7 linked regions of the Homo sapiens genome follow. The protein of the gene in region 1 interacts with the protein of each later gene in a biochemical or structural test. Each region holds a gene or a part of one and is shown in the gene's direction. Other genes may lie near its edges.

The links.
Region 2: the proteins of ATP2B4 (region 1) and GRIP1 interact in a test that uses a peptide from one of them, tested with the Homo sapiens proteins (one large-scale study listed by IntAct).
Region 3: the proteins of ATP2B4 (region 1) and PDLIM3 interact in a test that uses a peptide from one of them, tested with the Homo sapiens proteins (one large-scale study listed by IntAct).
Region 4: the proteins of ATP2B4 (region 1) and CARD14 interact in a test that uses a peptide from one of them, tested with the Homo sapiens proteins (one large-scale study listed by IntAct).
Region 5: the proteins of ATP2B4 (region 1) and ARHGAP23 interact in a test that uses a peptide from one of them, tested with the Homo sapiens proteins (one large-scale study listed by IntAct).
Region 6: the proteins of ATP2B4 (region 1) and PATJ interact in a test that uses a peptide from one of them, tested with the Homo sapiens proteins (one large-scale study listed by IntAct).
Region 7: the proteins of ATP2B4 (region 1) and ARHGEF11 interact in a test that uses a peptide from one of them, tested with the Homo sapiens proteins (one large-scale study listed by IntAct).

The regions. Positions count from the first base shown.
Region 1 is NC_000001.11:203,720,832-203,724,331, forward strand, and holds part of ATP2B4 (plasma membrane calcium-transporting ATPase 4), read left to right. Parts: intron 1-365; coding exon 366-579; intron 580-1,646; coding exon 1,647-1,858; intron 1,859-3,049; coding exon 3,050-3,157; intron 3,158-3,500. UniProt on the Homo sapiens protein: Calcium/calmodulin-regulated and magnesium-dependent enzyme that catalyzes the hydrolysis of ATP coupled with the transport of calcium out of the cell. By regulating sperm cell calcium homeostasis, may play a role in sperm motility.
Region 2 is NC_000012.12:66,462,577-66,466,076, reverse strand, and holds part of GRIP1 (glutamate receptor-interacting protein 1), read left to right. Parts: intron 1-654; coding exon 655-802; intron 803-2,983; coding exon 2,984-3,153; intron 3,154-3,500. UniProt on the Homo sapiens protein: May play a role as a localized scaffold for the assembly of a multiprotein signaling complex and as mediator of the trafficking of its binding partners at specific subcellular location in neurons.
Region 3 is NC_000004.12:185,518,508-185,522,007, reverse strand, and holds part of PDLIM3 (PDZ and LIM domain protein 3), read left to right. Parts: intron 1-3,500. UniProt on the Homo sapiens protein: May play a role in the organization of actin filament arrays within muscle cells.
Region 4 is NC_000017.11:80,168,563-80,172,829, forward strand, and holds the start of CARD14 (caspase recruitment domain-containing protein 14), read left to right. Parts: upstream 1-1,467; 5' UTR 1,468-1,494; exon of another isoform or gene 1,495-1,574; intron 1,575-4,267. UniProt on the Homo sapiens protein: Acts as a scaffolding protein that can activate the inflammatory transcription factor NF-kappa-B and p38/JNK MAP kinase signaling pathways.
Region 5 is NC_000017.11:38,466,464-38,469,963, forward strand, and holds part of ARHGAP23 (rho GTPase-activating protein 23), read left to right. Parts: coding exon 1-868; intron 869-2,680; coding exon 2,681-2,836; intron 2,837-3,060; coding exon 3,061-3,172; intron 3,173-3,383; coding exon 3,384-3,441; intron 3,442-3,500.
Region 6 is NC_000001.11:62,158,480-62,161,447, forward strand, and holds part of PATJ (inaD-like protein), read left to right. Parts: intron 1-2,428; coding exon 2,429-2,575; 3' UTR 2,576-2,968.
Region 7 is NC_000001.11:156,937,743-156,941,242, reverse strand, and holds part of ARHGEF11 (rho guanine nucleotide exchange factor 11), read left to right. Parts: intron 1-169; exon of another isoform or gene 170-185; coding exon of another isoform or gene 186-188; intron 189-817; coding exon 818-1,036; intron 1,037-1,332; coding exon 1,333-1,695; intron 1,696-2,729; coding exon 2,730-2,825; intron 2,826-3,500. UniProt on the Homo sapiens protein: May play a role in the regulation of RhoA GTPase by guanine nucleotide-binding alpha-12 (GNA12) and alpha-13 (GNA13). Acts as guanine nucleotide exchange factor (GEF) for RhoA GTPase and may act as GTPase-activating protein (GAP) for GNA12 and GNA13.

The DNA.
Region 1 (3,500 bases):
AAGACAGCGTTTCCCCATGACATTGGGACAGGAGTTAGCTCTTCTAAGTCTGCTGTCTTCATCTGCTTATGTAGATGGTAACTTACAGGCCTTAGCTTAGCACTTATGTGTCAGCCACTGTAATAAGCATTTATATGCACTATCTGTATTCTTCAAAAATGACCTTGTGAAGTAGGTATTATTATCCCCATTTTATGGGTGAGGAACTTGAGGCTCAAGGAAGTTAAGTAGCTTTCTCACAGTCACTCAGCTAGGAAGTGGCCAGATTCCAAGTCTAGGTGGGTCGTGGGAGCTGGGCCATCGACAGGGCAAAGGTGGGCTGGTTTCAGAGAAAAGCTAAAAGGACTGGTTCTTCTCCCCGCCAGGATTCCCCATTGAAAGCTGTGCAGATGTTGTGGGTTAATCTGATCATGGACACTTTTGCTTCATTGGCCCTGGCCACAGAGCCCCCTACGGAATCTCTGTTGAAGCGGCGCCCCTATGGCCGAAATAAGCCTCTGATCTCACGCACTATGATGAAGAACATCTTGGGCCATGCATTCTATCAGCTCATTGTCATCTTTATCCTTGTCTTTGCGGGTGAGCCACTTTGGGGGTGGGTAGCAGCTGGGGTCCTGGTTGGAGGTGGGGGCAGAGAAAGAAGGTAGCGTGAGAGCAAGTGCACAGGTCAGGAATAAGCGCAGCTTCACCTCCCAGTGCTTGCTGTGCTCCCGCTACACGGTGCATTATGCTACTATATGTACTCATACAGTACTCTTGAGTACAGTGTGTACTGTGTGTACTCAAGAATTTCACAAGGGAGGCTTTATTATTTCTTTCTTTCTTTTTTTTTTTTTTTTTTTCTTTTTGGAGACAGAGTCTCGCTCTGTCACCCAGGCTGGAGTGCAGTGGCGCTAACTCGGGTCACTGCAACGTCTGCCTCCCAGGTTCAAGTGATTTTCCTGCGTCAGCCTCCCAAATAGCTGGGATTACAGGCATGCGCCACCACACCCGGCTACTTTTTGTATTTTTAGTAGAGATGGGGTTTCATCATGTTGGCCAGGCTGGGCTCGATCTCCTGACCTTGTGATCTGCCCACCTCAGCCCCCCAGAGTGCTGGGATTACAGGCATGAGCCACCACGCCTGGCTTATTTCTTTTTTTACAGATTCAAAAAATTAACCTCAGGTCCCATAATGAGTACATAGTTGCAGTAAAATTCAAACCTATGATTGCCTGACTCCAGCGCACATAGTCTTACTACCATGCTGCACTACATGAGAGCAAGTATCAATGCAGCAAACTGAGAGAGAAGGTAAAATAAGTCAAGACCAGAACTAACATTTAAAATGTTTAATAACTAGTACAACAAAAAATTAGCCAGGCATGGTGGTGCACGCCTGTAGTCCCAGCTATTTGGGAGGCTGAGATGGAAGGATCACTTGAGCAGGAAGGTCCAGGCTGCAGTGAGCCATGATCATGCCACTGCGCTCCAGCCTGGGTGACAGAGTGAGACCCTGTGTCAAAAAAATAAATAACTAGTGCAGCTCAGATATTGATTAATTAGAATGGACACCAGCCATAAGCAAGCAGTATATCTGTACCAACACATTCTTACTCTTAGTTCAGACCACACTTAACCTCCAGTGCTTCTCCTCTCCCCACTAGGTGAGAAATTCTTTGATATTGATAGTGGGAGGAAGGCACCTCTACATTCACCACCCAGCCAGCACTATACCATTGTTTTTAACACCTTCGTGCTGATGCAGCTCTTCAATGAAATCAACTCCCGAAAGATCCATGGAGAGAAGAACGTCTTTTCAGGCATCTACCGCAACATTATCTTCTGCTCTGTAGTCTTGGGCACATTCATCTGCCAGGTGAGATTCTATCTGCAGTTGGGGCAGGAGATCTGGAATGATAAAGGGCAGAAGCTGGGAGCCAGGGTTCCCTACATACCTAGGAAAAGGAATGAAGGAATTACGGGGACTGGAGCTGTAAGTTGAACACTTTGGGATTCCCAATCTGCTTTCTTTTGCATATTGCTCTAGAATTGGAGCCCATTGTGTCAAGAGCTCCAGTGCAGGGCAGCATGTTGACTGGAAATAAAATAATACTTCTAAAATCCTTTCATGATCTTTCTAAATACACAGAAATTTCACAGAATGACCAAAAGAAGTATTCTCTTCTAGTCCCTTTCTATGGCTCCTGTCAGCCTATATGAAATGTGCATGCACATCTAGTATAGACTCTCCCTGTCCCTGCCCTTTGTTCTGAAGGGCTTATGATAAAAAGTGTTGTGCAACTCAAAGAAAGAGAAGTAATGGGATTTGTACATGTATATTACATAGTCAGCCCAGCTTGGACTCCTCCAATATGAGACTATGAGCTGATCATGTCCCATCCCTCAGCAGGGCACCTCCCTTTATTTGTCCCCATCCTCAATTCCTTTTTTTTTTTTTTTTTAATTTTAAAAATACAGATGGGGTCTCACTCTGTTGCTCAGGCTGGTCTCAAACTCCTGGCCTCAAGCAATCCTCCCGCCTCCCAAAGTGTTATTACGCCTGCCATTTTTTCTTTTTGTTTTTTTTTTTTTCGTTTGAGACAGATATCTCTCTCTCTCTCTCTCTCTCTCTCTCTCTCTCTCTCTCCCTCTGCCTCTCTCTCTCTCTCTCTTTTCCCCCCTCCCCCAGGGGGAGTGCAGCCTCAGTCTCCCAGGTTCAGGCAATCCTCCCACCTCATCCTCAGTTCCTAACTCCATCACTGTACCTTCTCCTTGTCACTAACTGGCTTTAGTCACAAGAAGCCACCAGCTCCCCTAACTCCTCCAGATTGTCTGTTAATCATAGTCACAGTAACTATGTCTGTCTCCCCATCAGAGTGCTCTTAAAGGCTGTTTTTGTCTGTCTCCCCTTTGAGATTTCTTCTTTTCCCTTCCCCTGCAAGCAAATCGGGACTTGTACCCAAGGATCCTGAGGAGTGGGATGATGTGGCTTTGGGGGCCTTGGCTGGAGGGCCAGCTGCCTGTTAGTCATTTCCTTGATGGTGGGCTGCCCCTTTCTCTGTTCTAGATTTTCATCGTGGAATTTGGGGGTAAACCCTTCAGTTGTACAAGCCTCAGCCTGTCTCAGTGGCTGTGGTGTCTCTTCATTGGGATTGGAGAACTTCTGTGGGGCCAGGTGAGTACCGGCACACCCTCCTGGTGCATTCTCACAGCCTGCAGAACTCCCCTCCTCTACATGAGATGGAACAAGCAACGGTGGAGACCCCCCAGCTCCTCATCTTCATCTTCTCCTCTTCCCTCCCCACCCCCACTCAAGTTTTCAAGTTCTTGCCATCTCATAGGATCTCAAGGTGGAATGATCACTTCAGAGGTTTCAGAATTCTTCTCTAACTAAGCCTGGAGGTAGAAAAATCCCTTAGCTTGGCTGGGCGCAGTGGCTCACACCTGTAATCCCAGCACTTTGGGAGGCCGAGGCAGGCAGATCACGAGGTCAGGAAATCAAGACCGTCCTGGCTAAC
Region 2 (3,500 bases), on another chromosome or scaffold:
TATATGAAGTTAAGCTTTACAAATTCAACTTAGTGTAACATTCCTACTACTTGGCTAGAGACATCATCCATCCATCCATTCTTCTGATTATCTATCTACCCATCCATTCATCCTCCCATCCCTCTTGTCATTCTTTTATTTATCCACCCATCCATCCTTCTTTTCTTTCTTCCTCCCTTCCTCCCTTCCTTTCTTTCTTCTTTCCTTCCTTTCTTTTTTATATCCATCCTTTCATCCATTCATTCATCCATCCGTCTATTTATTCCTGGTAGGTGCTAAGATATTTATTGAATTAAGTAATTAATTTAAAAAACCTTTACTGAGAGACCTAGTATATGCTCGGCATTGTGCCAAGCACTGTGGAGGGGATAAAGATACATAAGATATTATCCCAAGTGACATGAAGCTTAAAATCTCATTGAAGAGATGAACATTACACATACATTAACACAATACAAGCTGAATGGAACAGGTGTGTTAAGAGGTGCCCTATGAATTTATTATTGGCTGTGGGGATATTATATGGAGGGAAATCTAAGTTTCAGTGATAAAATTAACAGGCTAACACCAAACTGAATATTCTTCATCTCTTTCTTTTGTCTCTTTGCTTATTTGTTTTATTTGTTTTGTTTTCTAAAATTTGTTCTTTGACAGACTCTGTGGCAACAGCATCCGGGCCACTACTAGTCGAAGTTGCCAAAACTCCTGGTGCCAGCCTTGGGGTTGCCCTAACTACCTCGATGTGCTGTAACAAACAAGTCATTGTCATAGACAAAATCAAATCTGCAAGTATTGCAGACAGGTAAGTATTGTAGAAAGTGCCTACTTTTCCGCCAGGCGCAGTGGCTCACGCCTGTAATCCCAACACTTTGGGAGGCCGAGGCGGGTGAATCACCTGAGGTCAGGAGTTCGAGACCAGCTTGGCCAACATGGTGAAACCCCATCTCTACTAAAAATACAAGAAATTAGCCAGTCATGGTGGCAGGTGCCTGTAATCCCAGCTACTCGGGAGGCTGAGGCATGAGAATCACTTAAACTCGCGAGGCAGAGGTTGCAGTGAGCTGAACCATTGCACTCCAGCCTGGGCAACAAGAGTGAAACTCCATCTCAAAAAAAAAAAAAGAAAGAAAGAAAGAAAGAAAGTGCCCCTTTACAAAATTGCATGTGTGCAATTTTAAATATATATACATACATATGTACACACACTTGTAATACACATATACACATGCATATACACATACACACACACACACACACAGTTCTCTTGCCAGTTTATACAGGTTTCACACACAGAAGCAAGTTACTGTTACAGGGCTTAAAAATTCACCTATGTGTCAGCCACCCCATGATGTCACTTCACGTCATCCAGATGTTTGGTGTGGCCTTTAGCAATAGAAAAAAAAATCAAGCAACTAAGCAAGTTTTCTTACTGTGTCCTAGGGCACTAGCCTGTTCTTAATGTAGGGTAGCTGAGTAGATCTTTCTTAAACCCCATGCAGAGCAGTGATGGGTTTTCCTGAATTGTTGACAATTAAATCCTGCTACCATAAAATCTGATTTCTTTGTTTCTTAAATAAATAAAACAATACTTTTTAAAATATTTTTTACAATACTTTTAAAAAGTCCTATACTCTCATAGCATGTTAATCTTAGGATTTTACAACCTTCGAGGGTGTCTTAAAACATCATTCGCTTCAATGCCACAATAAAAATGAAATTTCATGTTTCTAATTAATATTTTATACTCGTAAGGTAAAAGGGGAAGATAAAAAAAGACTACCTTTCCATCTAATTAATTATTTTACAGCTCCTGGTAAGAAAAACCTCATCTCCCATAGCTAAAGCACTCCAAGTGCAAAAAATGTGGAATTATGTTTTTAGTTGGAAGATATGACTTGAAATGCTTTTGTCTTGAGACGTAGACTATTCACACTGGGAATTTATAGATATACTGCACCTGAATGACCAGTCTCCCCTGTATGTTTCCAGCCCTCTTCTCCACGTGCCCCTCAACCTGCCTTTCCACCTCCAGCCATGGTGCAGTGAACTGCAGCAACCCCCCGTAGTGGTCAGTCTACATCTCCATTGTGGTCTTACCCAACATTCAGTCCTTATCAGTGACAGCCATTGATCCAGGGGTGTTGTGCAGTTCAATGGCACAGGATGCTTTAATTTTCTCCCTCTGTTTTTTCCCATTCCACAGGGGGTAACCAGTTTAAGGAGCTGTTCACTTGACTGGTATGTGGGGATGCTGACGACTGCGCTAGCTTTTCTTAACTCATCCAGTAGCCAGCTCTTGAGTTCAGCAAGATGTAGCAGCTAGCCCCTTCCCTGCCCCCATCTTTCCCCTTGACTCACCATGCAGGCCTGGTTTTATTACTCACTTGACTCCTGCATAATTTCTACCATTATCAAGAGCTTTTATACTAATACATGTTCAACTCCAGAATAACATAATAATAAAGAACTGGTGATCTTGGAGTTTGTGTGAGGATTCCAAGGAAGTATTACTGAAATCTCCCCAAGTTATTCTTCTTTACACATAAAATAGACCCTATTCCAATTCTGAGAGTCATGTTTGAGATTCTGAAGATTTACCCACTCATGTTTATAGATAGAAAAGCCTAGAACAAAAAAACACAGACAAAAGTCCAGGGGAAACATTTTCCTGTTTTTCCCTTTCCTCTTGCTCGCTTTCCCTCAACTTTCCACACAAGCACTCCAAAATAAGATTTTTTTTTTAAAGAAAGACAAGAGAAAACATTTCGTTGAATTTTTCTCTATTTTCCACAAGGTTTTACTTCCTTGTTCATATTCAAGGTACTTAAAATTTGGCAGATGGTGTTTCCTATAACACTCAAACTTTTCTTTTCTTTTATTTTAAGTAAATGAAAAACTGTGAAATTTTAACTATGAAGGACATGAAAGTCAGATTCCAAAGAGGAAGGCACTGCCTCTTACCGAGTATTTCTCCTTTCCGTAGATGTGGCGCATTGCATGTGGGAGATCACATCCTCTCCATCGATGGAACCAGCATGGAGTACTGTACACTTGCAGAAGCAACCCAGTTCCTGGCCAACACCACTGACCAGGTCAAGCTTGAGATCCTTCCCCATCATCAGACCCGGCTGGCCCTAAAGGGGCCCGACCATGGTGAGATGGTCCACCTGGATCAAGCTCTTTCTCTGGCCCTCACAGTGTTGCTCCCTCTAGCAGAGTTAGACAGCAGAAAGACACTGGGTCTCATTCTGCCTTTTTTTTTTTTTTTTTTTTTTGAGATGGAGTCTCACTCTGTCCCCCAGACTGGAATGCAGTAGCATGATCTCGGTTGACTCCAACCTCTGCCTCCTGGGTTCAAGCCATTCTCCTACCTCAGCCTCCCGAGTAGCTGGGATTACAGGTGACCGCCACCATGCCCAGCTAATTTTTGTATTTTTAATAGAGACAGGGTTTCACCATGTTGGTCAGACTCATCATTTCTTTTCAAAACAAGGTTATGT
Region 3 (3,500 bases), on another chromosome or scaffold:
GGTAGAGTCTGAATCTAAAATCCACTAAAAGCAAAAGTAGGAGAAAATAAGCCCCAAAAGGAGTGAGCAGGACAGAGAATATGTTCATGAAGGCAGGAACCTTGAGGCTGTTGTCTTCCCTCTGAGTCCCTCCAGCTCAATAAATAGCCCACAGCTCAATAAATAGCTGACAAATGGATGAAAGGAACTGGAGGGCCTAAAAATGAGCTGTGCATTTTCTAACATTGCCAGGACCTGTCCTGGGAGCCAGTTCTCAAAATGGTGTTCTGCCATCACTCTCAGCTGTTGCATGGAAAGTAATCTTGAAAGTTGAGTGGGGCCAGGCGCATTGACTCACACCTATAATCCTTTGGGAGGCAGAGGCAAAAAGATTGCTTGAGCCCTGGAGTTTGAGACCAGCCTGGGCAACATGGTGAGACCCCATTTCTATAAATTTTAAAAATTAACCAGGGCATGTTGGTACACACCTGTAAGTCCCAGCTACACAGAAGGCTGAGGTGGGAGGAGTGCTTGAGCCCAGGATGTCGAGGCTGCAGTGAGCTGTGATTGCACCACTGCACTCCAGCTTGGGTGACAGAGCAAGACCCTGTCTCAAAAAAAAAAAAAAAGAAAAGAAAAGAAAGTTGAGTGGGATACTTAGGCTAGGTAAGACTTTTGCTCTTTGGGGTAAGTGAGCAAAAGAAAATGGATGGCACAGATAATAAATATAATGAGAAGGGATCTGAATGCTGATGGCGACTCCCCCTGACATACTAGGTGGGCTGGTGAATAATGACACCTCTAGTCAACATTTTCTTTGCTAGAAGAAAATAGTGGAAGAAAAAAGGAAAGTTCTTGAGGTAGAGTTCTCACTTGTATCTAGCCTTTTGCAGAGATGCCCAGGCTGACCTGCTTCCTCCCACCGTCATCAATTTATCACCTGGAGGTGACACATGAGAAAAAGAGACTATATGGTGCTTTTAAGAATTAAAGTCAATAGACATGCACTTATTGACCACTCAGCCTCTTATCATTACCTGGACCAACCAGAAGGGACTCTGCATTTCCTTTTCCCTACACAGCACACATCCAATATTGCACTGCATCCTTTGCAACTTATTTTTCCATGCAAGAATTTCTCCTAATTTTTAAACCCAATTTCGTTAATATGAGATGCAAGAAATGAGGCCAACTAGATAGATCTGACCGAAGTACCAAATCCCCAGTGATCCTTCATCATGGTTGCATCCGTCACCCCAGCATGTAAGTAATTCAGCAAGTATTTACTAAGCACAAAGTGAGTTTAGACCAGGATGGGAGCCCACGTTTTGCTAACATCTCTCCAGAATTGGAGTTTAAGGGTAATTTTCCAAGTTGTAGCTCTAGCAGAGGCTTCTATTGCAAGTCTATGAGTATTAATTTATGACTATGGTTATTCTAAGGATGGGATTTTAAGGCATAATCCTAATTTTAAATACTCTGACCTCTTGTCAAGCATGTATTAGCCCTTGTGTCCTACATTTGGGGGTTAGAAAATATGAATATTTACAATACTACAAATGAGAAAAAGGAGATTAAATTGTTTTTTTTTTAAAGGTTGAGATTAGGTTAAGGGCTATAGCAGCCAGTCAGATGGAGCCTTGAAACATTCCATGACTTTGCGTCATGACTAATTCTTACTGACATCCTCTCCAAGAGGCCGGTGTTTGAAATGCTCCAAGATAAGAACAATTCAGTTCTACTAATGAACCAAAGGATTTCTACTCCTTATGAGACTCTTAGGCCAGATTTCTGCACGGCCAGTTTATGTAACTTGGTACTTCAGGACAGACATTCCCTACACAAAAATAACTAAATTGCAGTGTATCTCCTGCTATCCAAAAATCCTTTAGCGTAAACCAGAACAAAACGTGCTGATAAAAGTCAAACAGTGAGTTTCACTTGTGGACTGAGACGAGAGAAAAGCTAAGCTATGGTTATAGGGTTTTTTGTTTTTCTAAGTAATACAAAGCTGTGCAAAAAAGATGTCTTTTTCTTTTTTATCAAAATGACAACTCTGCAAATACAGCAATCTTCTGGACAGCAAATACGTGTCAGTTAGAGAAACAAATGCCATTAATATTATCATGCTTCAGGATGTCATTGCAGATGAATAGCAAAAGGCCATGGAACAATATGAAATTTGAGTTTTTGTTTCTCAACCCAAGTCAAACTTTTATTGTAAGTTATGTGACCTTTGACATTGGAATAAAATACACTTTCTCACTTACTTATTGGGGAAAAAACTATACCATCCAAGCCCAGCCACAGATATTAAATATTAGTATGTTTATTTCTGGGGGTTTTTTTCCCCTGTGAATAGGTTTAAGCTAAGGAGACATTTTCTTATATGGTTATAGGAATAGTTGATATAAAATTTTAATATCTAGATTTTTAAAATGTGGCCGGGCATGGTGGCTCACGCCTGTAGTCCCAGCACTTTGGGAGGCCGAGGCAGGTGGATCACCTGAGGTCAGGAGTTTGAGACCAGCCTGGTCAACATGGTGAAACCCTGTCTCTACTAGAAATACAAAAAATTAGCCAGATGTGGTGGCACACGCCTGTGGTCCCAGCTACTGGGGAGGCTGAGGCAGGAGAATCACTTGAACCCAAGAGGTGGAGGTTGCAGTGAGCCAAGATCGCACCACTGCACTCCAGCCTGGGCAACAGAGTAAGACTCCGTCTCACAAATAATAATAATAATAATTTTTCCATGCTATCATCAAATAGCTAAGTTTTGTTTCTCTGAGTTTAGACTTGAATCTTAGGCTTAAAGGGCACGTTAGTTGTTGTTTAGATCAACTCCCAGCACCTGAATAAATGCCTTCCATGCAATCCTGAACACAATCTATTTTTCTCTATTTTTCTGTACAAAAATAGACAAAATGGTCCATTTTTTAGTACGAAGTGTTGCTCTTGACTAAGAGTATGTTAATGAAGCTCTTTGTCCTTTTTCAAAGCTTACATTCTCAAACCATAACCCTCATATTTGCTTAATGTTAGTGGAACAACTCAAAGGTATACTGTGCCTGTCACAATACAAGAAAGATGCTTTCAGAAACAAAAATGGTTCTTATCTAAATAAGAAGAAAGCTGTCTCCATTTCCATAAAAAGGATTGCATCCTTGCCAGAGAAGATAATAGAGTTTACATACACAGTCAAGAAGAGTGTGGGATAAAGTCATTTTTATTTTCACAAATAAAAAGTGTTTTGGTAACTGGAAGGCAGCCCATATAAAACAAGCTTTCATAGTCACCATTTCCTCAAGCTCTTCCCAGTGAGAGATGGGAAACACTTGAAACTGCTCACTGGAGAAAAAAGGATGATGAGGGTGACTTTACTGTTTATTTGAGGGGTGAGTATGAGGAGGAAGTGATTCTAAACTTCAAACGTGATGAAATATAATTTCTTCATCATGCCTTGATCAAATATAAGATCACTTCATAGAGTTTGTTTCTCTTATATGCCCACCATTTTTTCA
Region 4 (4,267 bases), on another chromosome or scaffold:
CTGGCAAGCTTCCCCACTGTGGGGGAGGGCTTATCATGAGGTCTGCTGGAGGAAACTAAGAGAGCTGAGCCTTAGGGGCTTAAATGAACTGCCTGAGGGGAAGCTGACACCCAGTGGGGCTGTAACCCTGGTTGGAGAGTTCATGTCTGCACCTGGCCTCGGCCTGCGTTCTCACTTGCTCTGCCCAACTGGCTGTGCCTTCAGCCGGCTCATCACCAGGAGATTTGGGTTGGAGCTACTGCTCAGCCACCATGAGCTACATGACCTTGAAGGCCGATCTTTGATTGTCCGCAGGATAATCCTGAAGGTTCTCAGGCCATGGACCTGTGAATTTCCCTTCTTTCAGTGTCTGCATCATTGGGAACCAAGCCCCTAACCAATGTTTATTCATTCGCTCAACCAATATTTGTGGAATATCACAGCCCTAGGGGTGGGGACACAGCAGGGAACAAGAAAGACAAGAATTATTGTCCTCAGTAGGTTACTGTGGAGTGGGGAGGCTGGCAGGAAGCCACGTAACTAGAATACACGTTAGGTCAAGGCAGTATTCCCACAGAGAAGATGGAACAGGGAAGGGGAGTGAAGGCCAGGATGGGAGGTCTACGGACTTAAGTAGGATGATCTGGGAAGTAGCATTTGAGTAGAGTCTGGAAGGAGGGATGGGAAAGAGTGTTCCAGGCAGTGGGAACAGCAGGTGCAAAGGCCCTGGGGCAGAAGTGTGCCTGGACTGTCAAGACTGTTGGGCTGTGTGTCTGGAGCAGGTAAAAGAGAGATAAGGTCAGCAAGGACCTGATAAGCAGAGCCTCATGGTCACGCTGAGGACTCCAGGACCTGTACACCGAAGGGAATGACAGGAGCTGACTCATGCCCTAGCAGGACTTCTCTGTCTGCTGTGTTGAGCGCTGGTGATGGGGGCGTGGGAAGAAGTTAGGAGCCATTACAGAGGTCCCGGTGGGCCATGATCAGGACACCACAATGCAGGTGGTGAGAATGGATCGGATTCTAGACATATCTCAAGGTGGAGGACCAAGACTTTCATCTAAATCTAAACAATAGTTATGAAATGTTAACTTGAGATGGATCTATTGGAATTATTCAGATACTTCCAATAATGGATCATGAGAACCAAGAAAGGCCCTAGAATTTATCCTGATCTTCGTAGGATTTTCCCAAGGGTAGAAATGATGATGAACTGGGTGACCGTTCACAAAGGAGAGAGGATTCCCAGCCCCCAAGCCTGAAGCCTTCCCCTCAATCACCCTCAATCACCATCTTCTGTGGGTCGACCAGATGCACGGACTGTTCTCAGCCATCCCTGTGGTTCTTACGGCAATGTCTAGCTGTGGGACTGCACTGGTGCTTCGATGGCTCATAGAAGCCCCATATAAGGCACTGCTCCTGTGGGATGTGCCTGTCAAACCTGCTTGTCCACTGCCGTTCAGTTCAGCCAGAGATTGGGCCACATTCAGTCCTCGCTTCCCTGGGAGGGGGAAGGTAAGTGCGCGCAGTCCATCCGGCGAAGAGCAGGTCAGCCTACGGAGGGCTCAGCCTACGGAGGGGCTCAGCCGACACAGGTCTGATGGGGCCCGAGAGTGGTCCCAGGGGAGTGGGAGGGGCCGGCATCTTCCTCATCAGGAGTGGAGGAGCTGCCTTGTATGTGGACTAGAGAACAGAAAACGGCTTGTCTGTGTTGCTGGGTCAATCACTGGAACATTCTCTGAATGCTGAGTTCTGCCTTAAAACAGCATGGGTCATGCTAGATGAAAGGGATCTCTGTTTTATACTCTCATCTCTTCGCTATTGCCGTGGGATGAAAGACAGCAGAAGGAAGGTGTCTAAGTTCAGAACAAAGTGAGCAAGACCAGCTGGCTGCTGTTGGTAGCAGAGGCACAGCCAGCCTGTCATGGCACTGGGGGGCCGAGGTGAGCTGTGCCCCCTCCTCCTGGGCTTGTGACCCTCTGCCCCCCATGGGGTATGTACATGTGTGTGTGTGCGTGTGCGTGTGTGTATGTGTACATGCCTTCTTCCCTACTTCACTGGCAAGGGAAGAGACTGACACTTGGGTTAGGAGAAGGATGTTGACCTGGGAGGGGTCAAATAAGGAGAACCCACATCTTAGATGCTCAGGATTTTATGATCTTAGGCTCTTCTAGAATTGCTGTACAGTTAGATTCAGAGTTTGGAATTAGAGATCTCTGGGCCCTCCCCTCCCCTCCCGTCCCCTCCCCTCCCGTCCCCTCCCCTCCTCTCCCCTCCCCTCCTCTCCCCTCTCCTCCCCTCCCCTCTTCTCTCCTTTTTCAGAAGTCTCCCTCTGTCGCCCAGGCTAGAGTTGCAGTGGCACAATCTCGGCTCACTGCAATTTCTGCCTCCTGGGTTCAGGTGATTCTCCTGCCTCAGTCTCCCAAGTAGCTGGGACTATAGGTGCACGCCACCACACCTGGTTAATTTTTTTATTTTTAGTAGAGACAGGGTTTTGTCACGTTGGCTAGGCTGGTCTCAAACTCCTGACTTCAGGTAATCCGCCCATCTTGGTCTCCCAAAGTGCTGGGATTACGGGCGTGAGCCACGGCTCCTGGCGCCTTCCCATTCACCTTCCCCTTCCCCTCCCCTTCCTCCCTCCCTCCCTCCCTCCCTCCCTCCCTCCCTTCCTTCCTTCCTTCCTTCCTTCCTTCCTTCCTTCCTTCTCTCTCTCCTTCCCTTCCTTCCTCTCTCTTTCTTTTCTTCTTTTCTTTCTTTCTTTCTCTCTCTCTCTCTTTCTTTCTTTTCCTTTTTTTGAGCCAGGGTCTTGCTCTGTCACCCAGGCTGGAGGGCAGTGGCACAATCATAGCTCACTGCAGCCTTGAACTCTTGAGCTCAAGCAATCCTCCTGCCTTGGCCTCCAAAGTGCTGGGATTACAGGCCTGAGCCACTGTGCCCAGCCCTAAGGTTTTTTGTTTTGTTTTGTTTTGTTTTACTGTTAGGACTAACCCTTATTTACACTGGGACAAGTTACAAAGAAACTCCTGCAATTGTTAACTGCCATTGGAGACTACTGTAAGTTGCTTCATGGCAACTGCAGAAGGGACTAGTGACTTCTATTTAGCTCCACCCACTGATGCTTGAAGTTCAGTGTGGCTCTGGGGGCTCCAGAAGCCTGAGGGGCAGCTGGCTGGGGCAGTTGGCTGGGGTCTGGAGAGTTCTGCAGAGCCCCTGTCTTCAGCTGCTGGTGAGGCAGCTTTGGCTTGAGCTGCCCTGGCTTTCTGAGTTCAGTCTGATGGGAGGGCACAGTCAGCACCCTCAGACCCTCCTCAGGAGTCTTGTGAGGCTCGGGCAAGTCAGGGGCAGAGGGACAATCCAACTAGAGGACCCTCCCAGACCCGGTCGTTGCCACCTGGACCCAGCCCCAGGAAGGCACCCGAGAAACCTGTAGTCCTCGGCTGACCACCAGTCCTGGTCCTCAGGATATCCGCAGAGACCTGGCTGTCCAGAACTCCCAGGGTTTCAGCTGCAAGCTGGAGATGTGGCCCCTTGGCAACTCGATATAGTAAGATACTGGAGAGCGTGCCAGAGTGTCATTTGCTAGAAACAAACATTATACTGCGGTAAGCCCTAGTTTTTCAGTCATTGGCTCTTTGGCACCAACTTAATCACAAGGCCATTGGCCCCAAAGAAAGGCCTTGTAGGCGACTGTTTAGGGACACCTGTATTTTCCATCTGCCTTGGAACCTCTAGGCTCAGGCCGAATGCCTATTGAAGTAGATGTTTCGTAAGAGATTTGGGGGCAAATACTGGGATTTTATAAAGATGCTGCACTCTCCTTCACTAAGTAGAAAGCTGAGAAATCCTGCCCTGAGGGGAAGAAACAGTTGTCTTCCTGACTGATGCATCCTAGACCAGCCAAGACTTCCTCCCGCTTTCCTTCTTCTAGAACTTTCCCCACTTCAGCCAGTATCTGTCATCCCCTGGGCTCCCACCCTCTCCATGTGCCGCTTTCATCGGGGCTGAGGGGAGCAGGAGAGGAGACGTTTCTGCTGGTGTCCCCGCTGTAGCTGGAGGAGCTCGGCGTCGGCGTGCCTTCGCCTCCCCTTGCCATGATGCCCCCTAAACCGAGTCTGTATTGAGAGAGAAAGGTGGCACCGTTGATCATTACTCCAGGACAAGAGTCATAAAAGGACTGTCCCAGACAACCTAGGACCCCAGTGTTCTGTGGCGAACACTTCTAGGATGAGGCCCATCTCCTTCTCTGTTTCATCAATTGGATTAATTTTATTGTTTTCTAAAATAATGA
Region 5 (3,500 bases), on another chromosome or scaffold:
TCCTCGGAGCCCCGGACGCCCCGTGCCTTCCCAGAGCCTGGCAGCCGGGTGCCCCCCAGCAGACTGGAGTGCCAGCAGGCCTTGTCACACTGGCTGTCAAACCAGGTACCCCGCCGGGCGGGGGAGAGACGGTGCCCAGCCATGGCCCCCCGGGCCCGCAGCGCCTCCCAGGACCGGTTGGAGGAGGTGGCTGCCCCCCGCCCGTGGCCCTGCTCCACCTCCCAGGATGCTTTGAGCCAGCTGGGCCAGGAGGGCTGGCACCGAGCTCGCTCAGATGACTACTTGAGCCGGGCCACCCGTTCTGCCGAGGCACTGGGGCCAGGGGCACTGGTGTCACCCCGCTTTGAGCGGTGTGGCTGGGCTTCCCAGCGTTCGTCTGCCCGCACCCCCGCCTGCCCAACTCGGGACCTGCCAGGGCCCCAGGCCCCACCCCCGTCTGGCCTGCAGGGCCTGGATGACCTCGGGTACATCGGCTACCGGAGCTACAGCCCATCATTCCAGCGCCGGACCGGCCTCCTCCATGCGCTCTCCTTCCGGGACTCACCCTTTGGGGGGCTGCCTACCTTCAACCTGGCCCAGTCCCCTGCGTCATTCCCACCAGAGGCCTCCGAGCCACCCAGGGTTGTACGGCCGGAACCCAGCACCCGGGCCCTGGAGCCTCCTGCGGAGGATCGCGGCGATGAGGTGGTCCTGAGGCAGAAGCCCCCGACGGGCCGCAAGGTTCAGCTGACCCCCGCAAGACAGATGAACCTTGGATTTGGTGACGAGTCCCCAGAGCCAGAGGCCAGTGGGCGAGGGGAACGCCTGGGCAGGAAGGTGGCCCCTTTGGCCACCACCGAAGACTCTCTGGCTTCCATCCCCTTTATTGGTGAGTGATGGTACATGTGGCTGTCCTGGGGGACTTAGCTGTCGGCTGTCTGTGTCCTGCTGTACCCCATCTGCCTGTCTGCCATGGGCAGAATTCGGCTGGGTGCTGGTGGGATCATCTTGTTTCTCTGTCAATTCATTCATCTGTTCATCCATCCATCCATCTGTTCTTCCATCTTTCTTTCTGTTCTCTGTCATCCTTTCTTCCATCCTACCTCTCATTCATTTATCCTTTCAGCATCTTTCCACGCACTCTTTCTTTTTTCCCTCTCCCCATCCATCCATCCATCCATCATCTGTTCTTCCTTCCTTCTTTCCTTCCTCTCTCCCTCCTTTGTTCATTCATTTGTTCCATCCATTCATCCATCTATCCATCCATCTATTCTTCCTTCTTTCCTTCCTCTCTCCCTCCTTCTTTTGTTCATTCATTTGTTCCATCCTTTCTTCCACCCATTCATCCATCTTTCTTTCCTTTGACTCTTCCTTCCATTCTCCCATTCTTCCTTCCATCTTCCCTTTGTATCTTTCCCTCTTTGTCCTTTCCATCCACCCTCCATCCCTCCATCGACTCAACAGATATTTGTGTCAGGCCCTGTGCATGGCTCCATGCTCTCCTGGACTGGATGGCCCAGCAGAGGGTGTTGGACATGCAGGGACAATCCATTGGGATGGGCGTGTCGTGGGACAGGGAGCTTGAGGAGACGGGCTCAGAGAAGGGCTATGGTGAGAATCTTGGAGAAAGAACATTTGGGCTAAGACTTGAAGGATGAGAAGGAGTTTATCAGGGGAAGAATATTCAAGGAGAGGGAATAGAATATGCAAAGACCCTGAAGGGAGAGAGGCAGGACCCCCTTCCAGGTTGTGAGGACCCTTTCAGGCCCAAGGGTCTCATTAGTCACTGGGGTTGGCTTTTGAGAGCAGAGGGAACCCTCTAAGGCTTGCCTTGCCTTCGACTGGATGCAGGAGAGGGAGAGGCAAGAGAGTAGAGTGGCTGGGTGATGCCCAGGTTTCTGGCCGGGCTTGGGGGTGGTGCCTCACCCCCGTGTTGGGAGTGAGAGGGGGACAAAGTTCAGGACTGTTGAATATGAGGTGTCCAAGAGGGAGCAGGATAGACGGGGCTGGGGAGAAAGAGCAAGATGCAGGGTAATGGAGAGGGATGGTGGTAGATGGGAGATGAGCTCACCCTACCAGACAGTGAGAGGGAGGAGGCCTGGGGCAGGGGGAAGACACAGCCCTGGCTCCCCCAGCCAGCCTTCGGTGGAGCAGAGACACAGCCCCTTCTGCTAGTAAGGAAGGCTCTAGGCTGTGGCCGGGAGAGGCAGTCTCTTCTTCCACAGCACAGTCTGTTTGAGGGGGAGATGTCATCTCTGCCCTTGAGGAGCCCCAGCTGATGGGGGAGCTTTTGCCCTTAGGAAGCTCTCAGTCTGATGGGGAAGACACTGCCCCTGCCCTCAGGAGGCTCTTGGTCTGAGAGGGGAGACATAATTCATTCTCTCTGAGTGCCCTCAGTCTGATGAGGGAGACACCGTCCCTGCCCTCAGCAGGCTCCCAGTCTGATGGGGGAATATTGGCTCTGTCCTCTGGAGCCCGGTCTAAGGAGGGTGGCTCAGCCCCACTCCTGAGGGTAAGGATTCCATGGCCACAGTCTGGACAGTGGGCCAGTCATGCTTGACAGTGGGCATGTTGCCAGCAGGACCCTTTGGGATGTGTCTGAGCCTGGAGGCGAGTGGCACGGGGGCTGGCAAGGCTAGGGTGGAGGCAGGCAGGCTCCGCTGTCTGCTGCCTTCACACCTTTCTCCTTCCACATGCATAGATGAGCCCACCAGCCCCAGCATTGACCTCCAAGCCAAGCACGTCCCTGCCTCTGCTGTGGTCTCCAGTGCCATGAACTCAGCCCCTGTCCTGGGCACCAGCCCATCTTCCCCGACCTTCACTTTCACCCTCGGACGCCATTACTCGCAGGACTGCAGTGAGCACTCCCCACACCCCCAGCCCCACCCTCTCCCTCGCTGCCCAGTCCCAGGGGTCTCTGTTGGGCCTGCTGCTTGATGTCTGGCCTCTTCCTCTGGTTTCCGCTTCTCCTGCGGCCCCTTGGGAGAGTCACCTCCTGCCCCTGCCCAGAAGGGAGGGCTCTGGGAAGCCCCTGACCTGCTGCCCCGCTGACCCTGAGGCCCGATGTGGGCGGCTTTGCAGGCAGCATCAAGGCTGGCCGCCGCTCCTCCTACCTGCTGGCCATCACCACGGAGCGCTCCAAGTCCTGCGATGATGGACTCAACACCTTCCGCGACGAGGGCCGGGTTCTGCGGTGAGGCCCTGTCCGGACACGGGGTGGGGTGGCCACAGCCACCGTGGCCAGCTGCTCTGGGGCAGGGCTCTTGGCCCTGGGGGTCCTCTATGCATGGGACAGTGTGCCTCCCCCGCTGGAAGGCTTCTGGGCTTGGGGTTTGGTGGGTGACGAGATAGTGAGGTCCCAGCTTTGCTGCCCACATCCCTCACCCTCGACCCTCGCTTTCCAGGCGCCTGCCAAACCGCATACCCAGCCTGCGGATGCTCCGGAGCTTCTTCACCGACGGGGTGAGAGCTGCAAGTGTGTGTGCGTGCGCAGGAGCGAGGGTGTGGGGAGAGAGGGTGTC
Region 6 (2,968 bases), about 140 Mb from region 1:
GAGGCCAAGGTGGGCGGATCACGAGGTCAGGAGATTGAGACCATCCTGGCTAACACGGTAAAAAACTCCGTCTCTACTAAAAATACAAAAAATTAGCCAGGCGTGGTGGCGGGCGCCTGTAGTCCCAGCTACTCGGGAGGCTGAGGCAGGAGAATGGTGTGAACCGGCGAGGCAGAGCTTGCAGTGAGCCGAGATTGCACCACTGCATTCCAGCCTGGGCGACAGAGCGAGACTCTGTCTCAAAAAAAAAACAAAAAAAAAGAGTTCGAGACCAGCTTGGCCAACATAGTGAAACTCTGTTTCTACTAAAAATACAAAAATTAGCCGGGCCTGGTGGCAGACGCCTGTAATACCAACTACTTGGGAGGCTGAGGCAGGAGAATCGCTTGAACCTGGGAGGTGGAGTTTGCAGTGAACCGAGATCGCACCATTGCACTCCAGCCTGGGCGACAAGAGTGAAACTCCTTCTCAAAAAAATTTAAAAATTCTTTCCTTGCATTACTAAAAAAGATAAATAGCTTAACATAGTTTTTAAAAAATTAATTTACACAGATATCTGAGATTTACTGAAGCCCTTAAATCTTAGCATGTAAAATTTAATAAAATCAACTTTGCCTAGTAATTCTGATTTTATCCAGTAAAATTACTTGTTTAATTTTGTCTTTAATACAGTTGACACATTACTTTCTTAAAAGATTTGAGTGAAGTTGCAAGTTTTGGGGTTTATTTTTGAGACAGAGTTTACTCTTTTTGCCCAGGCTGAGTGCAATGGGATGATCTCAGCTCACTGCAACCTCCGCCTCCCAGGTTCAAGTGATTCTCCAGCCTCAGCCTCCCAAGTAGCTGGGATTACAGGCATGCGCCATCACATCCAGCTAATTTTTGTATTTTTAGTAGAGACAGGATTTCACCATGTTGGCCAGTCTGATCTTGAACTCCTGATTTCAGGTGATCCTCCTGCCTTGACCACCCAAAGTGCTGGGATTACAGGCATGAGCCACCATGTCCAGCCAGTTGCAAGTTATTAATATTTAGTTTTGATATTTTGCCCACAGTATAGACCTGATTTCGAATACTTTTTTTTTTTTTTTTTTTCCTGAGACAGAGCTCACTCTGTCACCCAGTCTGGAGTGCAGTGGCACTATCTCAGCTCACTCCAACCTCTGCAGGTTCAAGTGATCCTCCTGCCTCAGCCTCCCGAGGAGCTGGGACCACAGGCATAAGCCACCACGCCTGGCTAATTTTTTGTAGAGACAGTTTCACCATGTTGCCCAGGCTGGTCTCAAACTCCTGAGCTCAAGCAATCCTCTCGCCTGAGATTCCCAAAGTGCTGGGATTACAGGCATGAGCCACTGCACCCAGCAGGTTTTGAATATTCTTTATTGCACATTCATTTAGAAATTCCACCATTCTCACGGTTTAGAAAACCTGTCTGATTCCCCAGCACCTCAGGACCTCCAAGCTGCACATGGACACAGATCTCAGGAGCGTTAGTGCCTCCTAGCTCGGCTTCTGATTGAGTCGGTCGAGGGCCAAGTGCCTGTGGGCTTTGGTTGCCCACTGAAGTTTGACCTCATTTAGAGGATTCTTCTGGCACTGACTTTTCAAGGGACTGAAACAGTTACCCCTACAGATGGTGAAACCTCCTGTAAATCATTTTTTAAGGTCTTTTCTTCCCTTACCAGTCCAAAATGTTTCTAGTAATATCGTGGCATTTTTAGATATGCAGCTTTAGAGTGAAAAAACCCTGAAGTTTCACTGGCTTTGTGCCGTTTTGAGGAACTATGCATGACTGAGTATATAATAAAAGTAGTCATTTAGAAACCTATTTAGATGATCAAAGATAAAGTGGAAGGTTTTGAATATATTACAAAATTTTAGAGATGCTACACTCGTATATATTTATATGTAGATAACAGCTTTATTGAGATATAATTCACTTACCATACAATTCACCCATTTAAAGACTACACTTATTTTTGACAGATCACAGTGCTGATAGCTTAATAATGCAATGGGAACTCTGTATAATGGTGGTATTTGCAGTAAGACTAACACCAGATTCAGTTCTATCTGCCTTTTTCTGTATATTACGTTTTCATGAATAGGACATGATATGACATCCAATTCCATTTAATACTAAATAGTGAAATAAGGTTCTACTTGTATTAAAAGCAGTGTATCAGTACATTTCTACTAGTATGTTATTTAGATTATCCATAATTATAGTTACTATTCAACCATTATTATTCAAACAGCATATCTTACTTTTTTCCTAATTTAAAACATTACCTAGAAAAAACTTAATTGGTAGTTTTTAAAGTTACTCTTTTAATATGCACACCAGACAGATGTTAGAGGTTTTAATATCAATTTAATATAAACTGTGTTTTACCCTGGATTAAACTGAAATGTTTCTTGTTTGTAGGGAGCAGCTGCAGATGACGGCCGATTAAAACGAGGGGATCAGATTTTAGCTGTTAATGGCGAGACCCTGGAAGGTGTTACTCATGAGCAAGCAGTCGCCATTCTAAAACACCAGAGAGGGACTGTAACCTTAACTGTGCTGTCATGAGCCTCGGGCCTGATCACAAGATAGATGTTGTTGTTTAGAATATCCACAGGCAGATGAAGTTCTGAGTGGGTATGAAAAGCACCCTCAACTAAAATGCACCTTCATTCTTATTTCTTGCCCTCTCTGCTCAGGAGAAATGGCTGAGGTTTCATGTGAATTTCCCAAATCAACAATCATCTCCTAATGTTTCCCAGTTCCTGTCACCTGTTGGCGAGGTTGATTTCTAAAACTTAAATGAGTCTACCTGTTTTGCATTTAATTTCAGTGTTCCGATTTCTTTTTTTTTTTTTTTTTTTTTTTTTGAGACGGAGTCTCACTCTGTCACCCAGGCTGGAGTGCAATGGCGCAATCTTGGCTCACTGCAACCTCGGCCTCCCAGGTTGGAGCGATTCT
Region 7 (3,500 bases), about 47 Mb from region 1:
GAAGAAACAGGGCGGGAGGAAGAGTCTGGAAGAGGAAGGAGAGCAGACTGAACAGACTTAAGAAAGGGTGAACTCGCTCACCTGACCAGAAATTCCCACCCAGCCTCTCTGGGTGACGGCATCAGCTGTGGAAGAAGACGAGCAGTCTGGCGGGATCCACGGGCCCTGCATCCTCCAGCCAGGGGTTACTGTTGGGGAGGGAGATACATGCTGCAACAATGAGAATGGAAAACATGGCGGGGCTGGGGAGCTCAAAGGGCTTAAGATGCAGTTACTGTGATGGGATTGGTAGAGGGGACAGCATTCTCATTGAGAGCTTGCGTGAGAAATAACCTGGGGTCTTGGGTTTCAGGAGAAATCTCGGGTTTCCTGGCTGGGTCCCTGTTGTTTCCTTCTGCTTAGAATGCTTTTCCTCCTAACGCCACACCTCCTTCACGTCTTCATTCCAGTGTCCTCTTGGCCCAATCTGTTTAATACTGTAGCCAGCACTGTCCAGCCCCTAGCCCCATGCCCTGTTGTTGTTTTCTTCTTTCCGGTGGAAGTTACTGCCTTCTAACAAACTACATAATTGACTGAAGTGTCTTATTTTTGTATGTCCCTCCCCTAGAATGTAAGCTCAACATAGGCAGGGATCTTTTTGTTTTGCTTACTGTTGTATGCCAAGAGCCTGGGACAGTGCTGGCCATGGGAAGTTCTCAGTAAACAACTGTAGAATAAGTCAGTGTTCCCAGCCCCTTGGCTCCAAAGCTGCCCATAGGCTCTCCCATACGTGCCCTCTCCCTTTCCCTGCCTTACAATCTTCTCTCATCCGAAACAGGCACTGGGTCCCAGCAGAGGGTCCAAGGGAAGCACCAGGTCCTGCTAGAGGACCCTGAGCAGGAGGGCAGTGCAGAGGAAGAGGAACTGGGTGTCCTGCCTTGCCCTTCCACATCCCTGGATGGAGAGAACAGGGGCATCAGGACAAGGAACCCCATCCACTTGGCCTTCCCAGGCCCTCTGTTCATGGAAGGGCTCGCTGACTCCGCTCTGGAAGATGGTGAGTGCTTCAAGGCCCTGCCGTCAGCCCCTGGTCCCCAGTCGCACACCCAGTGTGAACTGGCAGGCGCCTGCACCCTCCACCTTCCCGAAGGCTCTTCCTGGTGTGCTTGAGGAGAGATGGATGCGGAGACAGATGTCATTCCCCACCCAACCCCCACCAGCTAGTTGGCCAGAGCCCTCCAGCTTCACCTGTGCCTGAGGTCACCACCTTGGGGTCAGTGGGGCAGTACAACGATCCTTCTGGCGTGGTGTGCAGTCCCATGCTGGGAAGACATCACCCTGTTTCCCCTCCAGTGGAGAACCTGCGACATCTGATCCTGTGGAGCCTGCTGCCAGGTCACACCATGGAAACTCAGGCTGCCCAGGAGCCCGAGGACGACCTGACACCCACACCTTCTGTCATCAGCGTCACCTCTCACCCCTGGGACCCAGGCTCCCCAGGGCAAGCACCCCCTGGGGGTGAAGGGGACAACACCCAGCTTGCAGGGCTGGAGGGGGAACGGCCAGAGCAGGAAGACATGGGTCTCTGTTCTCTGGAACACCTACCCCCAAGGACCAGAAATTCTGGGATATGGGAGTCTCCAGAACTGGACAGGAATCTGGCTGAAGATGCTTCAAGCACAGAGGCAGCAGGAGGTTACAAAGTTGTGAGAAAAGGTAAAATAAATGGGAGTGTCCAGTGGGGAGACAAGCACCCTTGCTAGGTGAGATAAGTCTTCCGAACAGCTGCTTCCTTCCCTATACTCCCCCTGGGTACCGTGTGAGCAGAGACCTACGCTGGGTCCTGGAAGAAGGAGACAACGCCGATATCAGGCAGGCTTTGGAGTTGGACATTCGAGATTCAGAGCTTAGCTCTGCCACTTAATATCTGTGTGGCTTTAGACAAAATTCTGAATCATCTCTGAACTTTGTTTTATAGCACATAAGGACATTTCTTTCTGCCTGGCACAAACCAACTACCAGTACCAGTCTCTGTTAGTGCTCCTCACTGATCTCCTGTTCCCAGGGAAAAGAGCCACTCTTCTCAGGAGCCTCAGGCCGGGAAAGACAGGGCAGGTGCATGCAGCCCCTCACGCCAGGCAACAGCTCCAAGGGCAGTAGAGGTGGCAGCTGGGACTGGAAGGGGTGGAGGACAAAGCTGGGAAGACATTTGGCGAGTGAGGGATGTGGGGAGTGAACAAGGTGGCAGGGAGGGCACCCCGGGTTGGGAAACACCATGGACGGCCTTGAGACAAGAAAAGCCAAGACAAGCTCACAGGGAGGCCAATAGATGAGCCCAGGGAGGAAGGTCCCCACCCCGGGAAGAGTGGGCTGGTCTGAGAGGGTGGCAAGAAAAGTAGAACAAAGCCTGGGGCACACATGGGATGGGGTTCCACGCTAGTGGGCCTGCCCTCCCCTGGGATTCCACTCTGCCTCCCTTCCAGCAGCATTTTTCATTCCATCTGCCCAAGGGCCACCTGTCTCCTGGGTTTCTGGGAACTGACCTTCCTTCTCTGTCTCTCGGTGAATTGGTGGAAAGTTCTCTGCACTGCCTGGGATGTCATCGTGTATGATCTTGTGTTCACCTTGTTCTTCCCATTTTCTCCTCCCCCTGTCCCCACCTCCTGCCCTCTCTCCTTCCTGTTCTCTCTCCCTTCCCTTTCCTTGTGTTTTGGTCTCTCCTCTTCCTGGTGGTGGTGGTGTCGGTGCAGCTGAGGTGGCAGGCAGCAAGGTTGTCCCTGCACTACCAGAGAGTGGCCAGTCAGAGCCTGGGCCACCTGAAGTGGAAGGCGGAACAAAGGCTACGGGTAATAACTTTCTCCTTGGAGCTAAAGACAGGCCAAGACTGGAGTGTGGAACCTGTGAGGGCAGAGTCGGACCCCTGCCCATGGTCACACACACACCCACAAGCTCCCTCAGCTGCCTGGAATGGGGAGGAGGAAGATCTGGCTCTAAAGACGGGGAGATCTGGTTCTAAAGGCTGGCTGTCCATCCAGCCTTAAGAAGCCACCTGTCCAGGCTCCTGTTCAGAATGGCAGGGATAAATGCCTGTGTGCAATTGTGGGAGGGGCAGGGAAGCCTGGCCTGGGGGTGGGGACCTAGTGTCCTTCACCTGATATGCAAGCAGCCACTTCCCCACCTCAGCCGCCGCTCCAGTGTCACTGTGGAAATCGGCTGAAAGAGCCTCCCAGATTCCGCGGTGGTTCTCTGTGCTTCCTGCCTGTCAGGAACCCTCCACGTCCTTCCTCCAGCTCTCTCTGACACCCCTTGGTTGGGTCAAGGGACCTCCAGAGGATCGTGGCATGGATGGAAGAGGGGCAGGGCAGGGCTGTAGTTCATCCAGAGCTGGAGTCAGGCAGGGCAAGAGGGCTGCTGCCTGCTCCTTTCAGAAGAGCCTGAAACCAGCTCACAATCTGTTTACTCAAGGAGGGGGAGCCACTCCAATTTCCCCAAATGAAACACTGCAGCTCTGCCACTTCTCC